3 separate regions of the Homo sapiens genome follow, and all the other regions are linked to region 1. The links come from fine-mapping of genetic effects on gene expression. A gene starts in region 1. Each other region holds a variant in brackets. All regions are shown on one strand. Distances are between the middles of the regions.

The links. PIP is the estimated chance that this variant, and not a neighbour inherited with it, causes the effect.
Region 2: its variant is fine-mapped to the expression of IGSF10 in pituitary (GTEx, PIP above 0.99).
Region 3: its variant is fine-mapped to the expression of IGSF10 in skeletal muscle (GTEx, PIP above 0.99).

The regions. Positions count from the first base shown.
Region 1 is chr3:151,455,647-151,466,624 of GRCh38, reverse strand. It overlaps IGSF10 (immunoglobulin superfamily member 10), which reads left to right and starts at 5,564. Exons shown (of 8, transcript NM_178822.5): 1 at 5,564-5,679; 2 at 6,278-6,364; 3 at 7,915-8,109; 4 at 9,470-9,599. The coding sequence starts at 7,916.
Region 2 is chr3:151,537,404-151,548,381 of GRCh38, reverse strand. It overlaps a transcript of IGSF10 not described here. Among named protein-coding and RNA genes, the nearest start is that of LINC02066, 9.3 kb to the left of the region's middle. The variant T/C (reference allele first, on the strand shown) is at 5,262.
Region 3 is chr3:151,627,020-151,637,997 of GRCh38, reverse strand. It overlaps LINC02066 (long intergenic non-protein coding RNA 2066), which reads right to left. Exons shown (of 5, transcript NR_183765.1): 2 at 1,527-1,614; 3 at 726-856. Among named protein-coding and RNA genes, the nearest start is that of MIR5186, 67 kb to the right of the region's middle. The variant C/T (reference allele first, on the strand shown) is at 7,795.

The DNA.
Region 1 (10,978 bases):
CCTGGGAGACAGAGTGAGACTCTATCTCGAACAAACAAAACAAAACAAAACAAAACAAAAACACGTGCTGGGCCCATAATTTTTATACATAAAATTAGCTGGAGTTCCAGAAGGTGGAGTCCCAGACTCCTTGGACTGAGATAATTCCATTATTAAAAATAAAGTACCTACCCAAGGTCCAAGGCCTCTAATTGAATTCAATCCAGTTAATTATCAAATCCAATTTGATCTTAGACTCGGTGCAGTCTAAGTATTGCTCAAGTAAACTCAGAGACCCCAAAACACAAGTTACTGGAGTTCAGAATCTGAGAGAAAACTCACCCATGACCTCCATTTACAATCAAGAGAACAGTGAGCACAATGGGCTCAGCGGGTACCTCGCCTGGTCACCTGGTATTTCTGGGGGTCGCCAGAGTTTTACTTTGAATCCCACTTCTGATGCCAGATCTGTTAAAACTTCAGACAAATTAAATTTGACAAAGTTTAATTGAACAAGGAAAAAAACGATTCATGAATTGGACATCCTCCAGAAATACCGCAGATTCAGAGAGACTACAGGGATGCCTCGTGGTCAGAAAAAATTTATAGACAAAAAAAGGAAAATGATATACAGAAATCAGAAGTGAGGTACAGAAACAGCTGGATTGGTTACAGGTTGGCATTTGCCTTATTTGAACACAGTTTGACACTCAGCAGTGCATGAGTGGTTGAAGTATGACTGCTAGGATTGGCCAAGACTCAGCAATTGTTACAGGTGCATATTCCTAAGTTAGGTTTTCAATCTTGTCTACCGATTAAATTAGATTACAGTTCATCCACAAGGACTCAAATATAGAAGTACAACGTCCCTCTCAGGCCATATTTAGTTTGCTGTAACAGCACCATTGGTATCCTCTGGATAGTATGACAGATGTCATAAGAAATTAAATCCTCCAAAAGACAGATGATACTGAGCTTCCTGGAGAAATCAGAAAAATGTGCCTCATTTGCCATTTCCCATTTGAGAAAATACAAGCTGCCGTATTCACTAATATGTTATATAGTAAAGTAATAATAATGTCTTTTCATTAAAAAGAAGAAGAAACTAGAAGAGTTCTCAAATCTCTTAGGTGCATCTCCTACCCAGGCTTAAGAAATCATGGTGAGTTCTGCAAACCTCAACCAATGGCTTTTGATACAATACTTATCATAAAAGCAACACAGAGCATTTACAGCGACCAGAGTACAAAACTAAAGTCAGCAGAGCTGCTCTTCAGGCACCTATTTCTAAACTCTTGACAACAACAATGGTCATTCTTGTGCTCCTTCTGCCTTAGTCTTCTCTCAGGTTTGCATCTATATCAGGTTTCTAACTTTTATCTACTTCAGCCCTGGCTTTCCTAGGATCCTTGGATGTCACTAACAAAAATGTGAGATTCATCCATCCTCTCTTTTATTCCCTAAGTAAAATCTTAACTCTTGTTCCTCCAGATCTAAAATCTTTATTTATTCTCACAACCACCACTTTAATTCATTGTCTTAAGGCTGGACTATTATAATTGCCTCCTAGGTAGTTTTTCTATTTCCTATAATCCAGAGTCCATGGACTTATAAGAGGACCATGCATTTGCTTCAAATTTTTCTCCACATCTTCCAAAACTGTACCCATACATGGTGTTCTGAAAGCTCTGAAAGGTTAGAGATCTGGAATACTATATATAAAGTCTTCAAGTCATGTAGTTTGACTTTAGTTGGTTGAGTTGCAACTGTATTGGAAGAAAGATGATACTGATTTTCTTTCTACCTCCTTTTCCTGCATTATGTCTCTTCATGGCACTTATCACTTACCGTGCTAGTCTGTAACTTCAAAAAAGGAAGGGCTAAGATGTCAGTCTACTTCACTGCTATTGGAATCACTCAGTGGAGGTCTTGACTGTTTGGTTAATTGAATAATATGAAAATTGTGGAGCTGGGAGGTGGTAATGATTGTGCCTGATTAAAAGATATGTAACAATTTTGGCATTTGGTTATCTGTTGACACATATATAAGTCAGTTTTAAAATTCATAGCTTGTTCTGATTGTCAGGTGATCTATGACTTGTAACTGCTTGCGCTTGGTTGATTGGTGTTAAATAAATACTCTGATTAGGAGGGTGATGTAAAGGATGGTATGGATGATAAATTAAGGATGAGGAGTAAGAAGTAGTAATTACTAGAAAAGACAGCAAATAATGTCAAAGACCTAGAGATGAGGGGAAATGTAATTCTCAGGGGTGATATAAAAGGTGAAGAAGATGTATATTTATTGTCGTGTTTACTAGAAAAAATACAAAGCCTGAGAATTTACCAACAATACTGTTTAAGAAAAGAGTAACAAAAAGAGGGGGAGGATTTAAAGAAAATCATTAGGTAAAACTATAGTGAGAGGTAATTAAAATGTCAAACCATCCTTAAAGCGTAGGTAAATTACCGTAGTCCAGGAAACACAGGTTTAGGAGTTCAGATTGACAATTAACTCAGAGTCGCTATGCTCAGCTCTGAGATCTTGGCAAATTATACACTCAATTAACTTCTGCAAAATAAAGTTACAATTACAAAATAAAGTCATTATCATTGAATTTCATATATTTCTTATTAAATGAGGCCATGTTCAAAGGTGAAAGTGATTTGTAAACCATATGAATCTATAGAAACATATTGCATTATTAAGCATGGTTAGAAAAAAGAGTGGTGAAACTTTTCTTTGATATGCTGTGGACTCTCCAAATTTTATAAATAGAAGCAGGAAGAAGATAGAAAATATAAGGCTTTTTTTGTATTTTTGTAGAGACGGGGTTTCACCATGTTGACCAGGCTGGTCTCAAATTCCTGACCTCAGGTGATCCTCCCGCCTTGGCCTCCCAAAATGCTGGGATTACAGGTGTGAGCCACTGCGCCCAGCCATGGTGGCATGTGCCTGTAATCCCAGCTACTCAGGAGGCTGAGGCAGGAGAATTGCTTGAACCCAGAAAGTGGAGGTTGTGGTGAGCCGAGATTGCGCCATTGCACTCCAGCCTGGGCAACAAGAGCAAAACTCCGTCTCAGAAAAAAAAAAAAAAAAAAAAAAAAAAAAAAAAAAAAAACCAGAAAATGTAAGGCTTAAAAGCATTGGTTTTACAATTTTAAAATTAATTCAGTATTGTATTTTGGCTCTGAATCATTTAGCATTCTTTATCCTCAGCAATCTCATCTGAAAAACTGGTATAATTTTAGCACTTACTCATCAGAATATTTCTGAGAATTAAGCAATACATATAAAGGCTTTGACACATATATACTCTAACTATAAAAGTAATTACAAATATTAGAATTGTTATTAAGTGGAGCAAATGGAACTAGAATTGGTGCCAATATGACTCAGGTTTCTAATAATTCTGGAAGATGACATGAAAAGTAGAAAATACGTCAGAGAAGAGCTCTGACATAAAGCAATTGTAGAGATTTATCTCATAAAAATTCTTAAGAGAAGCAAACATTCCTATCAGGAGTTCACTTTGAAATTGATAGCAAGAAAATGACCCCAGGTAACAAGCCTAGGAAAATAAGTTTAACATGTTGCTGTCATCTTTCTGTGGTTCATCCTAGTTGAGGTCTGGAAGTCCAGACCTGGGTTAGAAATTGACTAAAGAATACGAAGCCATGAGGTTGGTCACCAAGGAGCTTTGGGAGAAAGATAAACTGTGGCTGCCAAAACCCGACAAATATGCCACATTTCCAAAGCAAGCATCCAAGTTTGGACATCACGTGAATTTTTAATTTAAAAGAATCTTGTCAGCTCTGCAGAGCTAAAGACCATGTTCATATACATGCTTCTAGGGTTACTTCTAACTCTGAGTCTCTGATTCTATAATTCTACTTTGGTAACTGACTTATTACTAACCATAAATCACATGAATGCTCGGCATGGGATATGGCACATTATCCATGTTTAGCTAAGTGAGGCAGCCACAACTTTATGGTTAAACGTTCAGACCATAGGGCAAGACTGCCTGAGTTTGAATTAACGGCTTTTCTACTCACAAGCCACATGGCCTGGAGTTCTGTCACTTTCCTTCATGTACCTTACTTGTAAAATGGGAATAACATAAATACTTTCCTTTTAGGCTTTTTGGTGCTATGGTGAGGCTGAAATGAGTTGGTATTTGTAAAACATTTTTCAGAAGTTATTTCACTAAACCAGCAATTCTCACATTGTAGCTGCATCAGAATCATATGGAAGGCTTGTTAACACATGGACTCCTAAGCCTCCTTCGTACAGTTTCTGAATCAGTGGGTCTGGGATGGATCCCGCAAATTTTTGATCTTAACGAAGTCCAAAGTAATGCTGATGCTGGACCCGTGACCCTATCTTGAGATCCACTGCCCTAAAACATTCATTGCAAATTGTCATCAAAAGCTTAAGTGCTATGTAACTACGTGGAAGGAAACAAGGTCATTTTAGTTATGTTAACTCAGTGTTTATGAGTATTGGGAGCCCCACCAAGAATTGCAGGAGATATTACATGTGGGCAAGTTGGTAGAGGTGATTCTGGAGGCATCTCTGCCTCCAGATGGTAGGGTTGGAGATGAGAAAGGAGAATGTAATCCAAGCAGAAATAGTAGTATTTAAATCCGGTTCTGTGATAATGATTTAAAAGAATTCCTCTGAGACATCTATATACGATGTAATATTGTTTGGCAGTTAAAAAACAAAAGGGAAATATTGCCATTTGTCACACATGGATGAACCTGGAGGACATTATGCCAAGTGAAATAAGCCAGAAACCAAAAGAAAAATAGTGTATGATCTCACTTATATATGTGAAATCTTTTTCTAAAAGGTCGATTATACAGAGATAGAGAATTAAATAGTGGTTATAGGGGTTGGAGAAAGGAAATGGAAAAATGTAGATCAGAGAATACACAGTAGCATACATTTATATAGATCTAATGTGCAAGAGGACTATAGTTAATAAAATTGTATGGTATTTGGGATTCTTGCTAAAAGAGTAGATTTTAGCTGCTCGTGTCACAAAAACAAAAATGGGGTAACTATGTGAGATGATGGATATGTTGTTTCACTATAGTAACCATTTTACTATCTGTATATAGCCCATAACATGTTGTATACCTTAAATATACGCAATATAATTTACTTATTTTTAAAAGAGGGGTTTAAATAAAACATTGACACTGCAGGTATCACAGGTCATTAACGCTAACTTAGCCTTCAAATAGAACTTTGGGAGCCACAGGACCAAGGACAGCCTGCGGCGATTTACGTAAACCCTTAAACCAAAAGGCCCACCTGTCAACAGGTGGAAGAGGTCAAGGAGGAAATGAACGGGCGGCCACTGAAACTGCTCTGCCACCCAGCCAGGACCTGCCAACTTGCTAGGAGAAAGCCCTGGGAATTTAAAGAGTGAAGCCACGGCGAATTAGCTTCCCACACGCTCGTAAACATAAAGAGGGGCCCGGTGGTCGTTTCTCATCCTTGTGCTGCTGAGCCCCGGCCGCGTCCCCAGACACAGAAGTCGGGCTCATCCCCCGCCCTCGCTCCGCCTTCCTTCCTTCCCTCCCAGAGCTCCGGACCAGCTCCGCACGACCCCAGCAGCTGAGCCCGGGACCGAGCCCGGGACCTAGCCCGGGCAGCTCGAGCCCATTGGTCACCAGGGCAAACAGGTGAGCGCCTCGGCCAATCCTTCCCCGGAAAGGGCTGGAACCCCACGCCGGCTGGGGCTTGGCGTGGGAATGGAGCGAGTACCGTGGCTGCAGAAGCGGGCGCTGGGGCGGGGAGGGCTGAGGGTGGGGGAGGGAAGACGCACCCGGAGAAGGTGGGGGCATGAAAGCACACGACAATTCTTCGGTGACTGGTGCCAGGCAAAAAAAAAAAACACACACTGAGGAAAGACAATCAATAGATGGAGACATCTGTGACAGATTTGTCCAAAAAAGACAATTTGAGGAGAAGCTCTTGGGACTTTGGAGCAAAATGGAGTGATTAGTAGTAGTTAATATTCAAGTGATAACTTTAAGGAGTATTAAGTACACTACTGAGGGAGGAGAAAGGAAATTTAAAAACCTCCACTTAGCCTTTTGTTTCTGCAACAGCAAGCATCATAATAAAAGAACGCTTCTGGGTTAATGTGGTTATGAGTTATAGAACTTTGAAGCTGTGGAAGCGGCTCCAGGTCTCCCTGAAGAGCATTACTCCTGGCTGTAAGCCAAAAAGAATAAGGCTTTTTGCTCACTTTGGAGCAGAGAACTTTTCCTCCCTCAGGTTTGGACACAATTTTCCATTTCCTGGGAAGATTTTCTGTCTCTGCCTATGTCACAAGAGGACTCAGGACCTGAAAGAAGAGCTCAGGTATTGCCAATTCCTATTTCATTATGTACATTTTCAGCCTTACGTTTGTGAGAATCCCTTATTCATGTGTTGTCTTATGCTATTGATCCTCTTTTAAATAATTTGAACGTGGGCATACCCAGAACTTTTATTTAAGCTGAACGAGAGAATTACCTTCATCCTGCTGTTCCTTCCTTTGTTTATCTAATGATAAGGTGGAAATGCTGTCTCCAATCATACAAAGCTTATTTAAAATTATTGTAACCAGGTGGTTACGATGGCAAAAGTGGTCATATGATTAATCCTATCTTAAATTTTAATTTGGACTAAATTATAATAATACATCCATCATCTTTTTATCTGTATGAAAATCCAAGCAGTTCAGCCCCAGTGTTATTTCTCAGTGTAGTTTGTAGCTAAAGGGTGGTTGCTGGTGGAATCCAACATCATGCTGTTCCACAGAACGGTGGGATTTATTACAAATTATGAAGGTCATTTTGCTTGGAAAAGCACAATAAAGAGTTTATTTCAATCCTGCATTTCAGGAGAGAATTAGGTTTGAATTCCTGGGCTTGCCCCACATATGGGTAACAGATACCATTTTTTTTTTTCTGACAAGCTGAGCATATTTCTTCCCTGGTTATGCTCCCCACCTCCTGTGGCAGCCATGAGCTGGAGGAGGGACCAAGGAAAAAGGCAGAGAGATGTCCGAAGCTGAGCAAAAGCAGACAGCATCATGCCTGCACAGGGTCAGCATGGCTCAAGCCCTCTCAGCTGGTCAGTCGCTGTTGCTTATGGTCATTACTTGGCAGTGAAGTGTTCAATGTGTCTTTTTTTTTGGCAGGGACTTGAAAACCGGTTAGAAAGAGATTTATTCTCCCTTCCAGTGGATTATTACAACCTTTAAAAAATGTTTCTGAAGAAGGTTTAATAAAATGAAAAAACATTATATATGAAATGATAAAATGTGTTACAAAATTGAGTTTGATCACATGTACACATATACACGTAAATGTATGTACACCTATACATATACACACAATAGATGAAAAAGGCTGGAAAGGAATACAACAACATGTTTAAGGATTATATAAGTGGTGAGATTGAGTAATTTTTTTCCTTTTTACTGCTTAATTACAGTTTCCAAATGTTTTATTATGCACAGATATTACTGTTATAATCAGTTTCTTGAAAGTTACTCTAAAAGAATTAATGTATATAAAGGAAACTAAATTCTATATATTTTAGTTGTCACAATCTTTCTTATGGTTTCCAGTTTCCCTTTTAATGAATGCCTGAGTAATAGGGATTGCTGGTTTTCATAAAGAAGTGAGAAGCTGTGAAGAAATTTTCACAACAGTAAATATCCCACTTGATCATAAAGCGCAGTGTGAGGCCAGCAGCACACACTATAGTTTTGTAAAGAGTGCATATGACCACAAAGGGTAGGAATGGAATTGACCACTTACGACCCTTAAAGAAGGTCTCCCAGATTCCCAGAGTGAGTGTGTGGTGGTCCTGGGACTTTGCTCCACCACTCTTTATAACTCTGAGGTATGATGTTTTTTCAGGATGAAGGTAAAAGGCAGAGGAATCACCTGCTTGCTGGTCTCCTTTGCTGTGATCTGCCTGGTCGCCACCCCTGGGGGCAAGGCCTGTCCTCGCCGCTGTGCCTGTTATATGCCTACGGAGGTACACTGCACATTTCGGTACCTGACTTCCATCCCAGACAGCATCCCGCCCAATGTGGAACGCATCAATTTAGGGTGTGTGAGACCTCATGTTTCCTCTTCTCAAAGAGGGATCAGTCGCAGCAGTGACTTGTCCCTCAAACATCTATGACTTTGGGAGATGAATCTCAATTGTTTTAACAATATTTCTTTTCTGAAATGAGCTCATGAGAATTTTGTTTGTTGGGGGCAATAAGAAAACTTTTCCTGGTAAACTTTTATTAGGAGAAAGTTCTTCTAGAATTTGAAGTCCCTCTTGGTAGGTTGGGAGACTCATGACGGTAAAAAGCTTCTTTCTGGCTACATTTTTGCTGGAAAATGATATAGTTTCTGTTAACTATTGGGGTTATGATCATTCATCATAAGAGATGACAGGGTAACTGGAAGTGTCTGCCTATATAATACACACACACACACACATACATACATATATATATATATGTATCCTTTTTATAGGCCCTTTGGTTTCTTTCCATACAAACTTATTTAAAATGGATGCCTAATTAAATTTTTAAAAATATGACTGTATTTTAAACGTTCATGAAAAAAAAGTCTGTGTGTGTCTGAATACACATGTTGGACTTAGCATCGTTTATTTGACATTAGTGAGCATGTACTATGCACTGGGGATACAATGGTAAGATATACTATTCACTTCTAGGATGTGTATTGATCGTTAAAAAGACCAGACAAATGTACGGTCAGTACAATTAATAAAAACTAATAGAGCATACAAAGTGTTTTAGAGACAGTCACTAATATTAAGAGCTAACATTAAGGTTGTGCTCAGTAGGTGCTGGCATTGGGTTAAGCACTGCATCCATTTAATCCTCATAACCCCTTTGGAGTGAGTTCTATTATTTACATTTTATAGATGAGGAAACTGAGGCACAGAAAGCCTGCTGATTTTACCCAGGGTTGTACCACTACTCTGTTGAGCCTGAGCTCGTAATCATACCCAAACGAGACGCCCAAGCCTGGCCTCCAGAGCCCAGGCTTCTTAACCACTGCTGACGAATTCCACCTGGGGGAGTGGTGAGGAGATAGTGTCATGAAAGAATGGGCTAGATATTAAGTGTTCACAAATAGAAAAAGGTGAGGTCAAGGGCATTCCAACCTGAGGGAACAGCATATATATAAAAGTTTGAAAATGATAAGAAATGTGACAAGTTCCCAGAATATGAGGGGGGTGATTGTAACTGAAATGGCAAGAACTGGGTAGAGAGCCGACCTTCTGTGGCATCTGGTGAATTTCAGTTTTTGAAGCATTTGATTGTCTCAATAGAGTACAGTTATAAAGAGAGGTATTGAGTTTTCTTGTGTTTATTTTGGTTATGACATTTGAACTTTAGTTGACAGACTTAGCTTATGCCTAGAATGTCATTTTTTATTTCAGATACAACAGCTTGGTTAGATTGATGGAAACAGATTTTTCTGGCCTGACCAAACTGGAGTTACTCATGCTTCACAGCAATGGCATTCACACAATCCCTGACAAGACCTTCTCAGATTTGCAGGCCTTGCAGGTGAGACTGATGGAGAGAGGGGGCAGGTTAAAGAGGTAAGGTGGGACCTGTGAGATAGACCTTCAAAGGCTGCCTATCTCTACACAATACGAAAATCAACATTCTGTAAATTAGAAGCAGACGTCAATGGAGAATGTTAACTGATTTTTAACTGTGGAACTGTGTGTATAAATTAGAATAATAAGAACTCTGAGGCAAGTTTTCTACTACCTCAAGCTAATAGAAAAAAAATCAATACCCAGAGACGATAAACCTTCAAAATTTAATCCTAAAAGGACACTTCTAGTCATGTTTATCTGGGAATTGAATGTGGTTCCTAAAAGTAATGACTATCTTAGACAGATAATAGTTTTATATAAATCAATGTACTATTTTCAGTTTCATTTTATTTACTTATTCATGTTCTACATTGTTCAATTTTTTAAAGTTAAGAGGACTCCCAAGAATGCATAAAATCATGCAAGAATGATCACAAAAGTAAGTGAGAAAGTAAAAGGTAAAATAAGCCTAGAGAAAAGAATAAAGGGAACATGAGGAAATGCATACATAGAGACCTTTAAGTCTGCTATAAGTAGGACTTGAAGCTTTCAAGACGCTAACAATACATGACATCTATTAAAACTTAAACTGTTCAGGAAAAGCACAGCCATGTATGATTTTTAAATCAGAAAGAAATGTCTTACAAAGCTCCTCATAAAATACAGTGCCATAAAATAAAGTCAATAATATCCTTGTAAAAGATGAAGTACCTGTGTTCATAGAGCCTTCTAACATATACCAGAGCTATGTAAGGGAGGTTATAACCATGGTGAGAGCAATAGAGTATAATGTAGCTATGTGATTCTGTTGATTTGGTTAATCAGGCTCTATTTGGAATGTATGTCTTCGGAGGAATAGATGGATTGCATGTCCTTTATAGAATTCTCTACATATATTTATTCTCTCGACCAAATTTTCAATGGCTGTTGAGGAACATTGAGTTGGAGATTGAACTCCCAGGTTACATTTGGGGCAAAGCTCTTCTATGTTGCCAACTTATATTTTCTTTTCTTATTAGGGGTCTTGGCATTCTAGAGAAGCATTCTCGACAGAGATGATAGTTCAGGCCAAGTCAGGAAAATATGATGAGAAATGGTGTTTACTAGCATTTCTTTTTTCTTTATGGGAGAGAGTATGTTCAACTGGTAATTGGAGAGGGAATTGGAGAATACCTGAGCACTATTGAAATATTCAAAATTATTTTAATTGCAACTCAAAATTAGTCATATTACTCATAACCAAAAAGTATAAGACACCTCTTAATGTCCATCAACCAATGATAGATAAAGCGTTGTGCATGTATACAGTAGAATACTATTCAGCAAAGAAAGGAATGAAGG
Region 2 (10,978 bases), 82 kb before region 1:
AGAGATGACGGACAGATGGCTTAAATCATCTGAAGTCTCATTCACTCATATATTTAGCATTTGATGCTGGCTGTCAGCTTGAACCTTAGCTGGGGCTGTTGACAGAGGAACCCCATGAGGCCTCTCTATTTGCCATGGGTTTCCTTAGAGCATAATGTTTAGGGTAGTCAGACTTCTTATATTGCCACTTAGGGTTCCGCAAACAAGTGTCCCCATGAACAAGGCAAAAGGCATACTGCTTCTTTTAAACTAGCCTCGAAATTACCCCAACATCACTTCCACTATAATGTGTTGGATATAAGCAAATTACTGGCCATGCAGATTCAAAGGGAAGGTACACACATCTCAATGGGAGAGTAGAAAGGTCACATTGTAGAAAAGCATGTGAGACAAAGATATTTTGCAACCATTTTTGGAAATACAATCTTCCACACCACAAACATATAAAACTAGAATGACTTCAGGTTGCTCAAACAGTAAAACTGGAAGTTGTATAGTGAGGGATTGATGCCATTAAAATATGAAGGAAAATACATTTAAACCTAGAATTCCATTTGCAAGCTAACTGTAAATAACATGCCGGCGGATTCTTTACATTTTCAGACATGCAATATCAGGAGCATTTGTCTCCCATGCACTCTTTCTCATAAAGTTACTGATGGATTTGCTCCAAGATGAAGACTTAAACCAAGAAAGAAGAATATCTGGGCTCTAGAAACCAGAGTACTCCATACAACCCAGAGGCAAAGAACATCTCTGAAAGAGGAAAACCAGAGTCCAATGACAAATATGCACCAGGTACAGTAAGCCTCCAGTCCAGGCTCTAGGAGAAGCTGTTTCACAAACATGATATTAATAGAATACATGATGTCTATACTGAGAGAAGACCTAGACAATTGGCAACAGTTTAGTTTTGAATAACGTGTGTGTGTGTGTGTGTGTGTGTGTGTGTATATATATATTTATATAATATATGGAAAACTAAGGAGAGGAGTCAAAAGTAAGATTAATTACTAACTTCAGGAAGAACATAATTGTGCAAGAACATAATCACTGGCTATGGCATTGCTCAGCTGTGAAAAGCATTTACATACTGATGAACATATTTAACAAAATGAATATTGTTCTAATGAAAACTATTAAAAAGGATGGAGTGGATCTTGGAAGCTTGCATGTGTGTGGGACGGTGTGGTTGTGAAAGGGAACTAAATCCTTATTTTTCATGGTAGAAAGTTAATAGAAAATGTCTAAAACTGAAAAATCCTGAAGAAGCAATATAAACATATTATTTAGAAATATGGAGAAAAGAGGCCGGGCACGGTGGTTCACGCCTGTAATCCCAGCACTTTGGGAGGCCAAGGGGGGGGTGGATCGCCGGAGGTCAGAAGTTCAAGACCAGCCTGGTCCACATGGTGAAACCCCATCTCTACTAATTATATAAAAATTAGCCGGGCGTGGTGGCAGTTGCCTGTAATACCAGCTACTCAGGAGGCTGAGGCAGGATAATTGCTTGAACCCGGGAGGCGGAGGTTGCAATGAGCCGAGATTGCACCATTGCGCTTCAGCCTGGGCAACAAGAGCAAAAACTTCGTCTCAAAAAAAAGAAATATGGAGAAAAGAATTAATTTAAAAAATGTAAAGAGGCTATACTTATAGAATGGGGAAGAGGGACACAGAGGACTTTGACTTTAATCATCAGGCTTGTACAAGCAATTTATGTGTATATAATGTTGCCAAAAATAAACATACGCCAGGCATGATGGCTTACTTTGGGAAGCCAAGGAGGGATTTGAGCTCAGGAGTTTGAGACCAGGCTGGGCGACATACTGAGGCTTTATCTCGACTAAATATTAAAAAAAAAAAAAAATTAGCCAGGCATGGTTGTGGACACCTGTACTCCCAGCTACCCAGGAGGCTGAGGTGGGAGGATCGCTTGAGCCCTGAGGGTCAAGGCTATGGTGAGCCATAATTACACCACTGCACTGAAGCCAAGGCAACAGAGCAAAACCCTGTCTCAAAAAGTAAATAAACATAAATAGTAAATAACAAGCATAGAAATTTATCAGTTGCTCTTGTTGGTGGGATGGTGGTGGTATCTTGGTGGTGTAGATAATGCTGTATTTTGGTAGGAGAGGGTTTTCATAATAGTCTCGCTGCATGCTAATATCACCCCCTGAGCCTTGCCAACAGAGATTTTTGCTTAATGGTCCAGAGTGAGACCTGGTCATAGATCTGTTTTTGATGCTCCCAGGTTGAGAACCACTGCACTAAAGCTGGGTTCAGCAATATCTTTCTGTACAGAGCTAGGTAACAATTATGCTAGGCTTTTTTTTTTTTTTGTGGCCACATATGATCTCTAATCTAATGTTTTGTTTTGATTTGTTTTGTTTTACAACCCTTTAAAAATGTAAAAACCAGGCTAAGCTCATCTGCTGCGAGCAACATTTGGATAGGGAGCAGTAATTTGTTAACCCCTGCACTACAGATTCCTAACCAGTTACCCTTCAGCACCCTTTTGCTTCTTCCTGATTCATGACAATTTCAATTAACAAATATTCACCACGTTTATTTTCTTTCCATCCAAAAATGTTATCAAATTGACAAATGATTTTTAAAGTACAAATTCAAGGACAAAGCTGAGAAAGGTGAGGAGATGACAGCAGATGAGGAATGCCAATAAATAATTGGAAAATATAAATAAATAACAAACAGATGGAAGGCCGGTTCTTGACAAAGCAAAGTGCAGGAATGCTAAAGTGCAGACACCTGCAGAGGGATTGCAGCTTGAATTGAGCCAATTTTCCCTATGGAAACTTAGAGAACTTCAGGACTTGATGGTCAAAAGTACCACAGAAATTGGGCTAAACCATAAGACCAAAAACAATGGAAGTGATAGAAAGCCTATTATTTAGCACTCAGAGCAAAGGCCTTGCTTCATCCTCCAAAGCTGCAAGGCAGAGGATTATAGAATTCTTCACTGTGAAACTGAGCAGCTCAAGAGAAAAATCTCTTAGTATCTCCTACATGAGAAGAGCACCTTGCTGCCTTATTACCCTACAGTGAATTCTGCCAAACTGCACTCAGTGATTCCATTTGCTTCTCAGGGCCTCCTTTTAACTACAAGTGGGGAGCCAAGCATTGCCAGGTGTTTGAGAAAAGTCTCTAATGTGAAAACAGGCCCACAATAATAGAAAATCAAGCCCAGAAAAAAAGAGAATATGCAAGAAGCATAAAAAAACTTTCAAAATTATGTAACTAATATGCTCAAAAAGATTAAAGGATATATTACAGTTGTGAAACAATAACAAAAGGCTATTAAGAAGGATCCAAGTAAGAATTTTAAAACACTTAAATGTAGAATAACTAAAATAGAAAATTCAACAGATATGAAAGATAAAGTTGTGAAAATGTCTCAGAAACCAAGAGACAGATGGAAAATTTAAAAATTAAGAAAGTTAGAGAATCAGTATAGAAGACCCAATAGCTAAACTAATAACAGTTCCAGAGTAGAAAACAGAGAAAACAAAGGAGAGAAGAATCATCATAGAAGTAAAATAAGACAATTTCCAAAACCAAAACACAAAAATCTTCAGATTGAAGGGCCTATCGCATGCATAATACAATAAATAAAACACAGCAAAGGACATCACAATGCATTTCAAACCCCAGGGCATTGAAAAAAAAAAAAAAGAGAGAAAATCTTAAATACTTTTAGAAAGAGAAAACAGGTCATTGAACAGAGGATTTGGAAATCAAATAGCATTAGACTTTCAGCAGCAAAACTAAAACAGGGTGGGTAGGTGGGTAGGGAATGAAATATAGAGCAGTGTCTTTAAAATTCTCAGTGAAAATGCTCTCCAATTTAGAATTTTTAAGCCATCAAACTGTCATTCAAACATGGAAGCTGGATATATATTTTCAAACATTCCATGCATTCTTTCTTGAAAAGCTTTAGAGGTTGCTATACCAAAAGAAAGATGTGAGGTAGAGAAAACAGGAAATCCTATGGAGGTGAGAGCAGAGAAAACCCCAGAAAGACTGCTGTGTTGCAGCAGCCTGGAGAGCCACCAGGAGCAATTAGAGCCAGTCAGAGGGCCCCTGCAGAATGTTCTCCTAGGCAAACCCAGTCCTGATGTGTTTGAGTACACTGGAAATATTAAAAGACATTTGACAGGCCAGGTGTGGTGGCTCATGCCTGTAATCCCAGCACTTTGGGAGGCTGAGGCAGGTGGATCACTTGAGGTCAGGAGTTCAAGACCAGCCTGGGCAATATGGGGAAACCCCTTCTCTACTAAAAATACAAAATTAGCCAGGCGTGGTGGCATGTGCCTGTAGTCCCAGCTACTTGGGAGGCTGAGGCAGGAGAATTGCTTGAACCTGGGAGGCAGAGGTTGCAGTGAGCCAAGATTGTGCCACTGCACTCCAGCCTGGGTGACAGAGTAAAACTCCGTCTCAATAAAAGAAAAGACATTTGACAGATCTGTTTGAGCACTTAGGGGTAGGGAGTTGGGGGAAATTATCAATAGCTACATAGAAAACTAAACAGATACTTATTGTAAGGTACATGGATATGCTTTGATCAAGGAATAGGCCAAGGCAGATATCCAGGCCTGCATGACTCAGCAAGTTTGGCAGGCAGACGCACACCTCCACTTGTTATATAACCTATTTGTGTAAGTTCATACTTGGCTCTGAGCCACTATTGTCTGTAAAAGGTGTAATTGCCCTGCTGACACTGTGCACAGGGGCTTGGCTCAGCTCGACTGGTCATGGCTTTTGTTCAGGCATTGGTACCCAGAGAAAGAGAGAGAGCAAGCAAAGCTGTTCATCTTGCAGGTGAACAGAGGGGAGGCAGGACACAGCTTGGCATGGCACGGCATGGCACAACACTGCTCGTGCTCTTGCCCAGAGAGAGAAAGAGTTAAGCTGCTGACCCTGAAGGCAAGGGAGAGCCAGCTGTGCAGCTGCAGGTGTGGGGGTAGTAGAAGCCACAGAGCTGGAGCAGACATCCAAGATAAAGGTGGACAGTGTAAGAGAGCTAATGTGGGTAAGCTGCTGATGAAAAAGCTGCTGAATAAAACTGCATTTCACCTGCCTATGGCCCCCTGAGTGATCTTTCTGCCCATCGACCCACTCCTCCCCTTGGACGGCAGCATAGGCTGGACCCAGACCCCTGAACCTAATACTTATTTACTGCAGGAAAACCCAAATGATAATCATGGACTTAGTCTCCTTGACTACGGAGAGAATTCTTACAAATA[T/C]TCATAATGTAAAATTTAGCCTTAATTAAACCAAAATTCTGATATAATTATATTGAAAAATTGACTAGGGGAATTAGTAGGAGAGATTTTATAAATGAGCTGAATCATTTTTGAACAAAAATATCAATAGACGATGTCTAGAATTGGTGAAGATAAAGCACATTTTTAAAGATGAGCACATTGTTTTGAAATACAGTGGCAATGTCAGAAAAAAAGCTAAAATTGTGTGGCCTCTAGACAGCAGGTGAGGAAAGTACAAAAATACCTTTAATAAAAACATGTGATTTTAACAAGACAAAAGTATATAAAACAAATTACAATCATCAACAGTAACTTTAAGCATTCCCTCCTTGAAAGGACGTAATCTAACAGGATTACAGTATAGTTAGTTTTAAGAACCCAAATCAGAAACTATAAGAAGTTTTCCTTATGTAAATTCTTACTATAAACATTTCTTACTATAAACATTTCTTACTAAAAACATTTATTTTGTTTTTATAGTAAGTATTCAAGTTATACTGTTAGTGGAAAAACAAGGAAAGAAATGTATCCACAGCAGAATATAAATTTTAAGAAAAATACACATGCATATATATTTATACAAAGGGTATCCCTGCAAGGATGTAGCTGATGTTGAGAAGAGTCGATGCCTGTGAGGAAGAGGACTAGAATACAGAGGTCAGAAATGAGAGGAAGACTTGCTTATCCCTATATACTTCTGTGTATTGTCTTACTTTAAAATATCCTTATGAATGAATTCTACTTATGTTAAAGTAAGGGAGATTTTCGTTATAGTGAGAAAATACAGTAAAAAATTACTATATGTGTCTTATATTATGTCCAATATTATATATAAAGAAAATGAGTATTTATATGCATTTATGGTTCTGACATAAGATATACAGGAAGAAAAGCATTTGCAGCCTGGATATATAAAATAATGGATTTATTTTGAAATGTTTTGAGTTTAGTGCCTGTGTGATAGCCAGAACCTGGAGTACCTGAAAGTCATTTGGGCTGGAGATAAAGCAAGTGCTGTAAAAGCCACTGAATAAATAAGATCACCTGGGAAATTTTTAAGCGTGAATGAGAGGAGAAGGGAGTTGGGTGTGAAAGCAACAGTAATTTAAGGAACAACTCAGGAAAAGAGATTAAAATGAAGCCAAAGAATGTGTTAAGAACATTGGTCATGCTACCTGCCGCATACACAATCCTTTCTAAGGAAAGTTGCTTTTCTTAAGGGAGAAAGTGGCCATGCTTAGCTTGCTTTGACCCCCATTTTCTCCACAGCTGATTGGTCTAGCTTGGGCCCCAGACATACATCTATCTATCCACTCATCCACACATATGTATGTATATGTATTTATGTATTGTACTTCTGTATGTCCTCGAGAGAAGGAGGAAAAGATGATGAATTTCATAAGACATGAGGAGGTATTAGTAAGATGAAATAATAAAAAATAGAGATACTACAAAGAAAAAACTAAAACATATGCAGAGAGAGAGAAGCCAATTTATCAAAAAGGACAATATAAAATTAGAAATATCAGCCTCCTAAAAGAATAGTGTCAACTTTAAAATACAACCATGAGCAAACCTCTAAAAGTACTTTGTTTACTCAGTAATGTGTTTAAATCTCATCTATATGACTATAAGAAAACTGAATTTATGGCCTAGCAAATTAAACAAAGAACTTTAGTGTGCTAGCTAATCTCACTGACATCAAATTCTAAAATATGATTTTTTTGACATGACTCAGCTCTGTATCATAACAAATTTTACTGTTTTGTTAGCCTCCCATATAATGTAAAGATATACTGTCTTGAAGTCATTCTACTTCAACAGACACATCTGACTTTCTGCCATGAAGTTTGTAAAATATGTTTTAGATAACTGTGGACAGTCAAAAACATGACTGATGTAGGAGAAACTGATAGTTTATGAATCTTACTGCTAATCACATCAGATGTAATGAACTTAATTAAACTACTGAGGTTTTGAGGGTATTTTAAGGTTTGTTTTTTTAACCTTAAACGGAATCATTTGTTCCATACACACTATACAAACTTCAGCATGATTTCCACTATCTGGAACTGAACTCCCTCTGATGTCTCCCCTCTGCAGTTGTTCCAATAATTTCTTCTGTAACCTTCACACTTAAAATGTAGATGGTTGTTCAGGGTTCAACAGTGAAAAACTGAGGAGATCCTCAGAGAGCAACAAAATTACTAGTGGATCTCCACTGTGGCTCTGAAAGTTCCTTTTGCCATGCAAGGTATCATATTCACAGATTGCAGGGATTGGTTCGTGTGCATTTTCGTGGGGGACTAGGCTTGTGAGGATGTAAAGCAACTGGAATTTTTGTACACTGCTGGTGGGTGTATAAACTAGTAAACACTTTGGAAAACTGCTAACATCCACAAAAGCCAAACAAATACATACCCTCTGACCCAGCAATACCACTGTAGGCATAGAGTCAACAGAAGTACATAGATATATGTGCACCAGAGGTACGAACAAGAATGTTCACATCACTACTATTTATAATAGCTCTAAACTGTCAACTTCTCACAGGCTATCAAAAGTAGAATGGATAACTACACTGTGGTTTAGTTACACACTGCAGTACAACACACTAATGAGAATAAATGATCTGCAAATATACACAATAATATGGATACTCCTCAAAAAAATAATGTTAAGCAAAAGAAGCTGGACACCAGAGTACATACTGTATTACTCCATTCATAAAAAGTACAATGCAGGCAAAATTAATGTATTATCTTAGAAATTCAGGTAAACTTACCCTTGGGTGAGGGTGACCAGAAGAGAATAATATAGATCAGAAGAAATGGTAATGTTCTGTTTTTCGATCTAGTGTTGGCTACACATGTTCAATTTTTGAAAATTAACTGAGCTGTACACTTATGATATATACGCTTTTCTGTGTTTATTTCATACTTCTATTAAAAAATTTAAATTATGTTATTTGGTTGTGATGGGTGAGATTTCTTTATGACAATTAATTGAGGGATAGGCTTCTGATTTGTTCATCGATTTAGAAAGTCTTCTTTCACTTCCCACCACAAAATGACACCACTGACGCCCAGCTAAGGGGATGAAAAACTTATTTAGGTTACTTAGGCTCGGACTAAGGCCAGTTCTGTCAGAAGCCTCTCACTACAAATTCCCTCCCTGCACCTCTTGTTTCTTAGATGAATGGATGGATGAACAGACAGACGAATGACAGACACACACAGAGATGATAGATAGACAGATAGATAGATGATAGATACAGATAGATGATAGATAGATAGATAGATAGATAGATAGATAGATAGATAGATAGATAGATGCTGTTGAAATAATGCTGGGTGAAAGGATTACAGCCTAAGAATAATCATCAAGGATCACTCTTCACTATCTATTGAGAGAACAACCAGCTGGGTGTTGGAGGTGGGGGTGGTCGGATTACAGATTCATATTGATACAATGAGTTTCAAGTGACTATGACACATTTTTTTCTGCATCTCCATTTCTTAACTGTAAAAAGAGGGAAAATATGTACTCTGCTTGCCATCCTGAGTTTGGGAAGAAGATGAATATGTAAACATATTTTAAGCCAAGATGTGTTAAAAGACCCTTAAGTAGAAACAATGCTCCACTCCTCTGGTTTTTCTAAGCACCAGTTTCTTGTTCCGCCCTTAACACTCAAACACTCAGGTGGAGTGAATTCGCCTATTTGATGAATTTAAAAGAAGGAAGAGGGCAGTCATAGCTAGCTCCTCTCTTCCCCTTCCTCTTAAGAGCGGCTATGCGAAAGTTCACGTCTGCATCTGGTCTTCTCTCGGGTTACAGAGCAAGCCTCCACGTGGGAAGCAGAGCGTTTGTCTGGACTGCTGTGACTTGTGACTCTTCTGTAGTCATGTGTAACATGTGGACTCCGCTGGAAAAAAGCAAGGATTAAAGTAAGTCCCTAATTCTAGGGATCTGTATTTGCAGGTCTAGCCTTACCAAAATCTAGGCCCCTTTCCAACAGCAATGAAGCTGATATTTTGATCGCCATCTGCCAGAAATTTTTGTTCCTCTTCCAGTGTTTTTAAAAACACAGGCAAGAAAAAAAGCTGGCTCTTTATCGTGCCTCTTCAAATGCCCACAGAAACTGAAGTATTATTGTTATTGGGATGTGTTTTCGTTTGCTGGAGTAACAGTTCTCACAATGCATGTTTTGTTCTAAAACCTTTTCTTTTTCCCTGAGCCCTTGCTGCCTGTGAAACAATTATAATGGTTTTAAGGGTCCAAGATTTAACTTACATTCTTTATGTGGGGCTTGTAAATTCAACTCAACATTGTTCTGTGACTACTACATGCCAGACACTGCGCTAGACTTGGGGGTTGAAAGAGTAATGTTCTTAAAGCAATATTGTGTCCTGGACATTTTAAATTAAATTTCTTTATGGAAATTCTGCTCGGGGTCTGATGTCAGCAGTGTTAATGGAAAAACAGCATCAAAGTCTTGGTGATTGTGTTTGTTTAAATATTGGAACTAGATACCCTTTTTCTCACTTTTATATTCCAATGAATAATCCGAAGACTTACATTTCTCATTCTACTTAGGCTGTGGTCTTACGTTTCTTCTACTATTACTTGGCTGTGAAGTGAGGTATTTAACCATTTAAACCATTATAATGTCCTTATTTAAGTGAGAGAGAATTAAAAACCAAATGAAACAAGCACAGACCCACAAAAAATCCAGGTCCTTCTCGTTATAAAAAGGGCAACAGCCTTTTTAAGCTTTTAGTTAATAATTAAAGAAATATATTAAGCAATAATGAGTGGGCAATAATGAACTTCTATGGGCTTTGTGTTTCTGGTGTTATGGTGGTCCCAGGAGTGACCCATCACAATTCTAAGAAACCTCTAAGAATATCAAATATGTTTATCAGTGAAGTCGCAGAATGAGACTTTGACTCTGCATCTGACAATTAGTAGGTCCTTCTGAAGACCCTTAACTAAACGTGAAGTTTGGCAACTATTAAGAATCCCACAATTTTGATCTCTGCCAAGTCGTAGACCCAGGAAAAGTGAGGAGTGAGTAATAGTCAGAGGAATCTGAAACTGAGGAAGCAGGAGGGCTCATGAGAGGGATCCTAGCTGCTCTGAGGATTTCAAATCTTTTGGCCTAGCTAAACTACATCTTGGGGAACAGAAAGAACGTATGTCTATAATTACTGAACCACTGTGGGTAATTACTGGGAAACCATGGAAAACAGGAGAGGTTCCAGGAGACTGAAGGATGGAAAATGTTGCTCCAATTTTTAGAAGGGAAAGAAGGTAGGTTTATTGAATTACAGATCAGAGAGCTTGACAAAAATCCTAGAAGAGATTATTATTTTTTTTAAGAGTCCATGAACACTTAGAAGAGGAAACAGTGATGACTAAAGTTAGAATGCCTTTGTCAATAACAGGCCATTACAGACTAACTTCACTGCTTGGTTTTTGACAGTGTGGCTAAACTGGTGTATGAAGAAGGCATAGTATAAACCCTATTTCGGTTAATTAGTCAAGTGCTTCATCATAGCATCATGTACATGATGGGGAAAAATGAACTAGATGGTAGAACAATTGGCTTTGAATGATTTAATGATGTTGTCTCCATCTAAAGAGTGCAGACTTGCCTAGTGACAGGCTATAGTTCTTTCTTCTCGGCCTCAACC
Region 3 (10,978 bases), 170 kb before region 1:
TTGTAACTACTTTCAAGAAAAATTAATAAGAACAGTAAACATATATATAAACATATATATATATACATATATACACACACACTATGCACCAACCTCTGTTCTAAGTACTTTATATTCATTCATTTACCTAATCCTCACAATAAACTCATGAGATACATATTATAATTATCCTTATTCTATCTATTTGGAAACCAGGCACAGAGAGGTTAAGAAACTTGCCCAGGATGAAGGCTTAATTTGAACCTGGGTAGTCTGGCTCCAGGGCCAGTGTTCTTAACAACTAAACCCGTGGCTTTCCAGGGCTGGTCACCAGGCCAGCAGCAGTACCAGCAGCATTTGGGAGCTTGTTAGAAATGCATAGCCCTGAGCTCCACACCAAGCCTGTGGAATCAGAAACTTTGGAGGTGGTGTTAGGGATTTGTGTGTTTTAATGAGCTCTCCCAGAAGTCTGATGTTGTCTCAAGTTTGAGAAACACAGCAATACACCACATTGCCCAAAGCAGCCACGTAGTAACAAAGCTGGCCTCAGCGTCAAGAGACCACATGGATCATTTCTCTACCCACATTGGGAGCTCAGAATAACTGCTGTTTTAGAATTTCTAGATTGAATTTTTACAATCACGATTTGAATTCTACTAAAAGGAATTTACTTGAGAACCCACAACAGGGTAATGAACATGGCACAAGTTGTCAACATGCTGGTTAGGGTAGAAAAAGTATGCTACCTCTTTGTCCAGGGTTGTTTACACATCTGCCCATTTTCAGCTTCAATTGGAAAGGATGTGGCCAAGAAACTGTTTTGAATCACTGAGTCTGGTCCAAGTTAAAAAGTCATCCAACTTCTTCAGAGTGGCACCTGTAGACACAGCCAAATCTGTGTGGCAGAACATCTGCAACACAACTCCAGGTGACACTCTGCCAGATCATTTAAAATTCTGCATGTCTATTACTATGAAAAAGTGACTCTCCATCATTCTCAAGTTTCAGCAATGCCTTTTTAATCAAATTAAGAGATAAAATGTCATTGCCTCTACCTAAGGTCATACATTTTTTGAATATTCCCATGCTCAAAGAATACACCTACATAAAAAGACTGGTAGGAAGTAAATCAGCAAGTTAAGTGTCTGTCTCTAGAAATAGGGATTATGAAAGTATTTTTTCTTCTTACACTTTTATATCTCATGGCTTGACCTCTGCCCTGAACTCTAAACTCCACCTGAACTGCTAACTCAACACTCATTTAAATGCTTGATATGCAACTGAAACTTAACATGTAAAGAAATAGCAGCTTAATTTCTACCATTCTCCCAATAAAATCCTTCCCCTTTTTTTCATCTCAGTTAAGAAAAAATTCATACAAGTTCTTGAACCAAATCTTGTAGTCAATCTTTATTCTTTTTCGTTCACAAATTATACAAATTATATCTAATTTGTCAGAAATTCTGTTTGACTAACTACATCCAGAAGGGACTATTTTTTACCAACATCACAAAACCACCCTGATCTAAACTACCACCATTTCTCACCTGAATTATTGTAGTTCTTTCCTTGCTGGTCTTCATGTTTCCACCATCTCCCTCTAGGTCTATTCTCCACAGAGTTGCCAGAGTGACCCTTTTAAAACATGAGGCAAATCATGTCATTTTATTGATCAAAATTTTACAATGGCTGTCAAGAACTGTGAAGAGTATGAGATTTATATTACCCTACTTCGAAGTTAATAAATTAGCCTATTAGTGTTTCAGGGATGCTAGCAAAGACAAAAAGACTCCTAGGTCCAACATGAAGGATTTTGTTACTCAGAGCCCAGCAGGCAGCATGAGCATCAGCTGCAAACATCAGTTCTCCATACTCTCCAGGTCCCTTGACAGCAAGGCAATGGGCCAAAATAAATATGTGCATATGCAGTGGGGTACATTATAAGAGAGGGACAATGAGTTCATGGAATGCATCATTTTATAGCAAGCACTAAGCAAGCCTGCTCTTTGTTCTGGAAGAAGGCATCCCTCAAGGTTGCTCATTACAAACACGACTCGGAGAAATGGTCTGGATAAAGAGTGCTCAGGGACTTGCATTCTTGGCATACTTAGCAATGAAGTATGAAGGTGCGTAAGACGTCCATGGAGGACAATCTACTCCAACAATGACTTCCCATGTTAATTAGAATAAAAGCAATGGTCTTTATAATGATCTACAAGGCCCCACACTATCTGCTTTCCTTCACTGCCTTTTCTTTCTATCACTCATCACTCTATTGATCACCACTCTGCTTTAGCCATACTGGCTGCCATGCTGTTCCTCACATATGTGAGTCATGATCCTGCCTCAGAACTCTTGGTGTTACATTCTTCTGCCTGGAATGCTCTTCCTCCAGTTATACTCATAGCATTATAGATTGAACACTTATGTCCCCCCAAAATTAATACATTTAAATCCTAACCCCCAGGGTGATGGATAGTATTAGAAGGTGGGTTTTTGGGGAGGTGATTAGGTTATGAGGGCAGACCCCTCATGACTGAAATTAGTGCCCTTATAAAAGAGATCCCACAAAACTAGCCCTCCCCTTCCACCATGTGAGGACACAGCCAGAGGTGCTCTCTGTGAGGAAACATGTCTTCACCAGACACCAAATCTGCTGGTGCCATAATCATGGGCTTCTCAGCCTCCAGAACTGTGAGAAATAAATCTTTCTGGTTTATAAGCCATTCCGTTTACAGTATTTTTGAAAAAGCAGCCTGAATGAAGACACATGATTTATTCCCTTATTTCCTTCAAGAACGTGTTCAAATGTCACCTTTTCTGTGAGGTCTCTTCTGGCCACTATATTTAAAACTCCTATCTCTAAACCTTCTGGCACTCCATATGCCCCATGCCCTGACTTATTTTTCTGTTTGTACTTATCACCATCTGACATACCATATGAACACCTATGTTATATATATATACACACACACACACACACACATATATACACACACAAACATATACACACACACAGAGGTATATGCATATATGTGTAAATATATATATGATATACTATATTAGATATGTGTATAATTTATTGTATGTCTCTCCTCCAAGAGGACAGGGACTTTATTGGTTTTGTTCACTACTGGATCATCAGTGTCTAAAACCAGTCCTACAGTACATAGCAGGTACTCAAAAAAATACTTGTTGAGGCTGGGTGTGGTGGCTCACACTTGTAAACCCAGCACTTTGGGAGGCCGAGGTGGCCAGATCACCTGAGGTCAGGAGTTTGAGACCAGGCTGGCCAACATGGTGAAACCCCGTCTTCACTAAAAGTACAAAAATTAGCCGGGTGTGGTGGCAGGTGCCTGTAATCCCAGCTACTCAGGATGCTGAGGCAGGAGAATTGCTTGAACCCGGGAGACGGAGGTTGCAGTGAGCCGAGATCTCACCATTGCACTCCAGCCTGGGGAACAAGAGCGAGACTTTGTCTGAAAAAAATATATATACATATATATATATATTTGTTCAATAAGTTGAATGAGTTAATGTTTTTGTATAGTTTTCAAGTTTCCTAAAACAAACATCATTTTTATAATCGGAAACAAATAGTATAAGGTTACTTTTAGTGGCATTACTTTTAATGGCAAAAACCACAATTACTTTTGCACCAACCTAATACTTTCTATATAGAAGAATTTGCCCAAATGCAACAAGTTGTTTATAGACCCAAACAACTCAGGCAGACCCCACCCACGTCCCTGGCTGAGGTATGAGTAGCTAGCAATAGCTAAACTTACTAAGCATTACTATGCTGGACACTTTATAAATTAGCTCATATAATTTTTGCAACTTTGTAAGACATAACCCCCATTTTATCTATAAAGAAACTGAGGTTCAGTTAAATAACTTTTTCAAGATCACAAAGTTTATAACTGGAATTGTGATTATGAATCCAGACAGCAGTACTGCCCTGAGATCTGGGTAAGGAGGGCCCCTGTTTGAGACTTCGTATTTTTGTATGACTTCCTCAGCATTTTCTAAGTACCCTCAGTTGCCTGAACTCAATCAGGTCTACCAATGCTGTCTGGGCATGATGTCCTGATCTTAAACCCCATTTCTTCTCTTCCAAATGCTCTGCAACCCTCTCCTCTGCACAAGATCCTGAAGAGCATCAGAACTCATGCTAATAGGCTCCAGGAGAATGGTTCAGATGCAGGTTCCAGGACAGTGGCCTGACAAGTGGATCACTCCTGCTGACTCTTGCAGTATTTCTTTCATGGGATTATGTGAGATGGGACCATCAGAATGGCTAACTTGGGTGGCTCTTACCCCAGTGAAAAGATAAGTTCTGGGCTCCAAGCTACTGAGGACCATTGCTGGTACTTGGGTTTGAGCCAGATGTGTGGTCCCATGCATCAGCTCTTGCCTATCTGTATCTCAACCCTGATGCCACATACTGTCTATAGCACCTAAGGATGGTGGGAACAGTGATCTCTCAGCTTATGTGTCCCTCACCCACTGGCACTCAAAGCAGTCATTCCACCTATCTTCAGGGTCCATACCCTGCATCCAGCAGTGCTCTGGAGAATCTGTTGCTCTGCAAAGCCAATGGACCTTTCTCATCATTGTCTTCTCTTGGCTGATTGGTACAATGATAGAGGTCTCTCCTGGGTCAGTTTTAATCCATGACAGATGAGAAATGGTCATTTCTTGTGCAAATGGGACTGCTCTTTTTGCTCTGCCCTTGGGCTCTCACATCTTCTCCCCAAGAGCGGCAGTGAATGGAAGGCACAGGTGGGAGCCACATAGAAAGGGATCACATTCTCAGAATCCATCATTACAATTTAACAAGTTAAAGAGAAAACATGGCTGGTTGTTGCATTGCTCTAGTTTATGCTCTAACATTCCAGTCTGTAAACTTAACATGAATAGCAAATGAATTATTGTTCTCCATTTTTTCTGAATACTCTGCATAAAACTTGCATTTGTAGTCATCACAAGTACATATGTGGCACTTAACTCGGCACAATAATAACCTTTGAGTGTCATTGGAAGCCAGTATTCATGGGGTCACAATGAATAATGCAGCATCACGAGTAATGGTGTAACCAGCAATTAAATAAATGATATTAGGAAACTGCAAAATCAAGATAATCTCTGTTGCTTCAACACAAACAGGTTCCAGTGAGCCATGGCATTGTCCGTAACATCATTGCTCTCTTTTCATTGTGATGAGAAAATAAACACGAAGAGATATTTTCCAGAACACAATTGGCAGAGATGGTGCCAGAACACAACAAAAAACTTTCTGAGGCCAACCTTCTATTTAATATCCAAATAAACTATCAGCACAATCTATCCAACTTTTATTTTTGTCATCAGTCACAGTTCTCTACTATATTTGTAAAAGGATGCTTTATCTTGGCATAGCTGCAGCCCATTTCTGTGTTAAGATTTTTACATTACATAGTATTATTGCTATTTTCTCACACTGTGTACCTTCCTGTGCAAATCTCCCTCCCAAACGCTGACAATCAGCAGCTTATCTTCTTGATACCTAGATTCCTACTGGCCAACACCTCTCAATTCCTCTCTCAGCTACTTTTGTTTTCCTTTGTCCTACACTGTTTACCAACCCTTTCTCTTCCTCATTTTCTCCTTCTGCAAATAAAAACCTAAAAAAGAAACAGAAATTCCTTACTTTCTATCCTCCCTAATCTAGTGTTTCTCAATGCATGATCTTCTGATGCTCTTAATTAAAATCACTAGAGGGCTTTTAAAAACACTATACAGGTTCCCAGGCCCCACCTAGATCAACTGAATCATGTCTTTGGGAATATGGCCCGGGTCACCCATGTTTAATCAATCAGGTTGATTCATTCACAGGCTAAAGCTTGAGATCACCAACTTAACCACAAGGAAAAAAGAAAAACAAAACAATAACAACAAAAAAATTGCACCACTGTTGTCAAGCTTCATGATTTATAGAGTCAAGTACAAAAGCATATTGTACAGACTGATGACACAATGTACAACTGTGCTAGATACAGTGTCGTACATATGCTGTGATGTTAGAATATGAGGTACAGGCTTGCACACATTGCCCTTCAACCTGGAACCTCTTTTGCTCACTTATCTCATTTCTATGTCTTTCAAAACCAGATTTCTCCATGAAGCCTTCCCTGGCTCCTCCTGCCTCTCCTTTCAAAAGCCAGGTTCACATGTTGTTCACACCTCTCTTTATATTAATGATCAGACTGTATTTCTCATTGTTTCTTCATGGGGCTGTCTCCTCCTTCAAAGTATGAAGTTCATCAGAGCTATCTGTTTATCTCCAACAATTTATGAATATATGTGTCCCTATGCTATATGGCAAGTGCACAATAAATAGTTGTTGAATTAATGAACTATAAAAAACTAGAAGAACAAGAACCCATCCAAGTGATTTTGCAAAGTTTAAAATGAGACACTATAAATTATCTAGGTGAGTGCTGCATTAGAAATGAAATATATTATTCAAGTTCTACTCTCAGATTTTATTGATTTCCTTATGGAAAACATGTGCTGTGTTCAAAGTCAAAGAAGCTTTAATGCAAGTCAGATCTTCCTTCGTAATCCTTTGGAAATAGCCTTTGACAATGAGGAGAGAGTGAAATGTGACTTGTCACATTATAAATAAGGCTAAAAATACACACTTGATGTCATCTAGTGTTTGGTGTTCCAAGAACCAAAACTAGTCATTGCAACATTTCAGCTTAACATCTGCTCTTTCAACCTGTTCAGCTGGTTGTTTGTAAAACATTCCAGCTTATCTCTTCAAAGTAATGTGAGTGGGAGTAGGAACCCTTTGTTGAGAACATTTTTTAAGTAAGATTCTAGAGGGCCAGTTATTTGTGGAAACCAGCTGATGGAAGGGGGCAGCTGGAGGAGCCAGAGATAGGTGAAGAGAATAATTTGATCCTCCTGTGACTTTTCCTAGTGCTGACTTCCATCTTCCCAGCTGAGAACTCCTGTGATAGCTTCCTGTCTATCCCCCCACCTCCACCACTGGCTCATTCCTCCCTGCAGTCTAGTCTCTCCCCAAGCCCCACCACAGCAGACAACTTCAGCTGAAGAACATTTTGGTTTGAACTGTCCTAAAAATGGAGACACCCCTTTCTTGGATTTCTTTAATTGATATATCATACTTGTATGTATTTGGAGTTACATGTTATATTTTGATACATGTATACAACATGCAATGATTAAATCATGGTAATTGGATATCTGTCATCTCAAACATTTATCTTTTATCTTTTCTTTGTGTTGGGAACATTACACTTCTTCTCTTTTAGCTATTTTGAAATATAAATAAGTTATTATTAACTATAATTTCCCTTCTGTACTATTAAATACTAGAACGTATTCCTTCTATCTAACTGAATTTTTGTACCCATTAACCCAATTCTAAACATTCTACAACTATAAATCACTGGCAAGGAAAAAATGATAAATCAAAACAAAACATCAGAACTTAAAAACAGCTGGATTTTCTTCCAGGTGGAGTTGATGCCCTCTGAATTTTCTTGTAAGTTGTATACTTTCTTCAGAGAAGATCAGAATATTATCCTCTAGGATTAGGGTAACCTTTTATAGGAAGAACTGACACTCTCCAAATTCTCCCTCAACCAGCTTCTTAGTGCCCCACATTCCACAATTAGATGCTCATTTGTTGGTTTAAAACTTCTGTAGCTTTGCTTGTTTACTTTTCACTCCCTCATCGTGTTTATACATCATGACCTTAACATGGATACCTCAGAGTGGAAATATTTGTCAGATCTATTT[C/T]TAAGACCAAAAGACATTGGGGAGGATGCTGTTGTGAGGGTGGGGGTTGGGGAGTAACTGGGAGTTCCAGGGCCCACTTGGGCTGCCAGGAGGGAGGGAATCACAGGACGTCTTCAGGCCTATCTCATTTTCTTCACAATTTCCCCTGCCCCGTCCTACTCAGAATGTGAAAAAGCACAGCTTTTTGCCATATGTTCTTTGATTCCCCTGGTTAGCAATAGTCCTGAAATATCAAAATGCTTTTGCTATTTAAGACCTTAATGCTCTTTAAAGACTTTTTTATTAACTGTAGCACGTAAGTCCAAGTTACGGCAAGAGACTTAAAGTTGTTCGAGGCATTGCCAGTAATTCAGGACAGGATCACAAAAGCAATAAAAATGGGAGAAAGAAAAAGATGATGATGCATTGCTGATGCAGTACCTGAGATTTTCATGTCACAGGCTGAACATAGGTACAAGTTTTCCCACAGAAATAAATTCTACCAACTGTTATGTATCCGCAGCAGAGAAGGAAGGTATGATTCAGAAATTAATTTCTATCAAATTGTTTATAGCTCTATTTTGATTATCCACACTTTCATATTTGTAATATTATGTTAACAGAAAAGTAATCGCGGTTTTTGCCATTACTTTCAATGGCAAAAACCGCGATTACTTTTGCACCAACCTAATAGCTGAAAAAGAGTTAGCAAATAAAAACCTGAAAATGTACTATGCAGCCCTTTCTAAAACCTTTCCACAGCTCATCCTTTCTTCCAGCCATTAGGTCCAGCACCAAATTCTTTCCTTCTGCCTCTCCATTACCAGGACTAGTTAGTGCTTTAATGTTCCTTATTATTCACGAATTATCTGACCAAAATAACCCAGTCATTGTTAAAATTAATTCCTCTGAAACGGTTTAAAAATACGGCACATAAAATTTAATTAGGCTAATAAATACTTGGAATATTGTTAAGATATTACAAATGAAGGATACAGGAACTTATGGTCTAGTGGGGAATTTACAGTCTAGATCAAAACTATAGCCGCCAAGGAAGAAGACAAAGCAAATGCAGCTTTGCCATTGAAGAGGCACAGAGCGCTGTTGGAGCACCAAGGAGAGAGATATTATTTCTGTCTGAAAGGAGAAGGGAAATGCTCATAAAGGAGGAAGATGGTAGCTAATTGAGATAACCACCGATTTGTGAACACCACTTCTTTGAATGATCATTATGAAAAATATCTATGAACTAGATTCTTCTCTACATAGAAGTTTGAACAAAGCATTAAATGTTGAAGGCAGGAAGTTACCTAAACTACTAAATAAAAATAATTTATTTTTGTTATACCCTGACGTCTGTTAATAACAGATAACACTTCCTTGAAAGTCAGAGTTTCAGTTAAATACTGGGTAGAGAGTGAATTAAAAAGCAATAAACAAGTAACCCTTGTATACTTACATAACATCGTCTTTAAAAAGAGTATCCAGTATCAAAGTCAAGTGCCAAGGCTAAGGGAGGCAGCCTGGTGCCCTGGAAAGGGCATACATAGGCTTTGCCTATGGAGAGACCTATGTTCAATTGCCGGCTCTACCATTTGTTAGCTCTGCATGCTTTGATTTGGGCACTTTATCTTTTTCTCAAAGTTTTCAATTCTTTTCCTATAAAAGAGAAATGTTTTTAGATCTTACTAATGCACACACCTAGAAACTTAAATTCAGTGTCTGAAAAAAAATCACGGTTTAGCCTAATAATTTTGTTAATTTATTTCATTTTCTTGAATTGTGGTGTCTGATGCCAACCTTTGGAAGGCTAAGGCGGGAGGACTGCTTGAGCCCAGGAGTTCAAGACCAGCCTGGGCAACATAGTGGGATCCTGTCTCTACAAAAAAAACAAAAAATTAGCGGGAGTGGTGGCATGTACCTGTAGTACCAGCTACTAGGGAGGCTGACGTGGGAGGATTGCTAGAGTTCAGCAGGTCGAGGCTGCAGTGAGCCGATTACAGCACTGTACTCCAGCCTGGGAGACACGAGATCTTGTCTCAAAATAAAATAAAATAAAATAATTTAAAAATTTAAACAAATCACTCTCTCCCTTTCTCTCTTCCTTGCTTCCTTATCTCCCCTCCCTACTCTCTCATTGTATTATATATGCTGCAATTCTATCCACAGGTAGACTAGCTTGTAATCCTACTTACTGAAAATTTTACTAATAAATTTCTCACATAATAATAAAAATAAGGATAATAAAGAACACCAAAGAATTAATACTATCCCCGGTAATGAAGAGACAGAAGGAAGCAATCCATGTCCCATCTGAGGGTTTGAGGAAAGAAGAGGAGGTATGGAAGCCTTCAGATGGGGCAGCAAGGTACATTTTTCACAGATCCTCTAAGGTTTTTAAGAGGACATATTTTCCCTAGAGATTCTCCAAGACACACCTGCCAAATACAAATTTCAAATTGCTCTCTATATGCTAGTGTTCCTGATTTGTATGGCTGATAATTGCCTTTTAAAGGGGCTTCATATTTAGGATCACACCTTACCTTCTCCACACCATGACGAACCTGGGGCAGTAAATATCACCACCCCATGTAGCATTTCATCAGCACACAATATCCATCCTACGCTGAGTTTTCCTTGGTGCCCAGCTAACTAGTGTTAGAGCCCAGCCTTAACTCAGATGTTGAGTAATTCCAATTGCTAGGCATTCTGACCTCAAGCTTGTGGGGTGCCCTTCCTGATCTTTCTTAATAATGACAATATCACCTACCTTGTCCCAGACAAAATGCCAAGTGCTTAGCATGCACTCTTGATTACCTGTAACCTCAATGCACATTAGGAAAGACTGTGCTTGCTTTACAGATGAAGAAATGATGAGGCTCAGATCGGTTAAGAAACTCACCTTAGATTGGGTGTGATGGCTTATGCCTGTAATCCCAGCATTTGGGGAAGCCAAGGCAGAAGGATAGCTTGAGGCCAGGAGTTTGAGGCCAGGAGTTTGAGACTAGCCCAGGCAACACAGTGAGACCCTCTACAAAAAATAAATTTAAAAAATTAGCCAGGCATGATGGTGTGCCTGTAAGTCCCATCTACTTGAGAGGCTGAGTAGGGAGGATTGCTTGAGCCCAAGAGTTTGAGGCTTCAGGGAGTCATGATCATACCACTGCACTCCAGTGAGAGAAATTTGCCTTAAATCACATCGTTA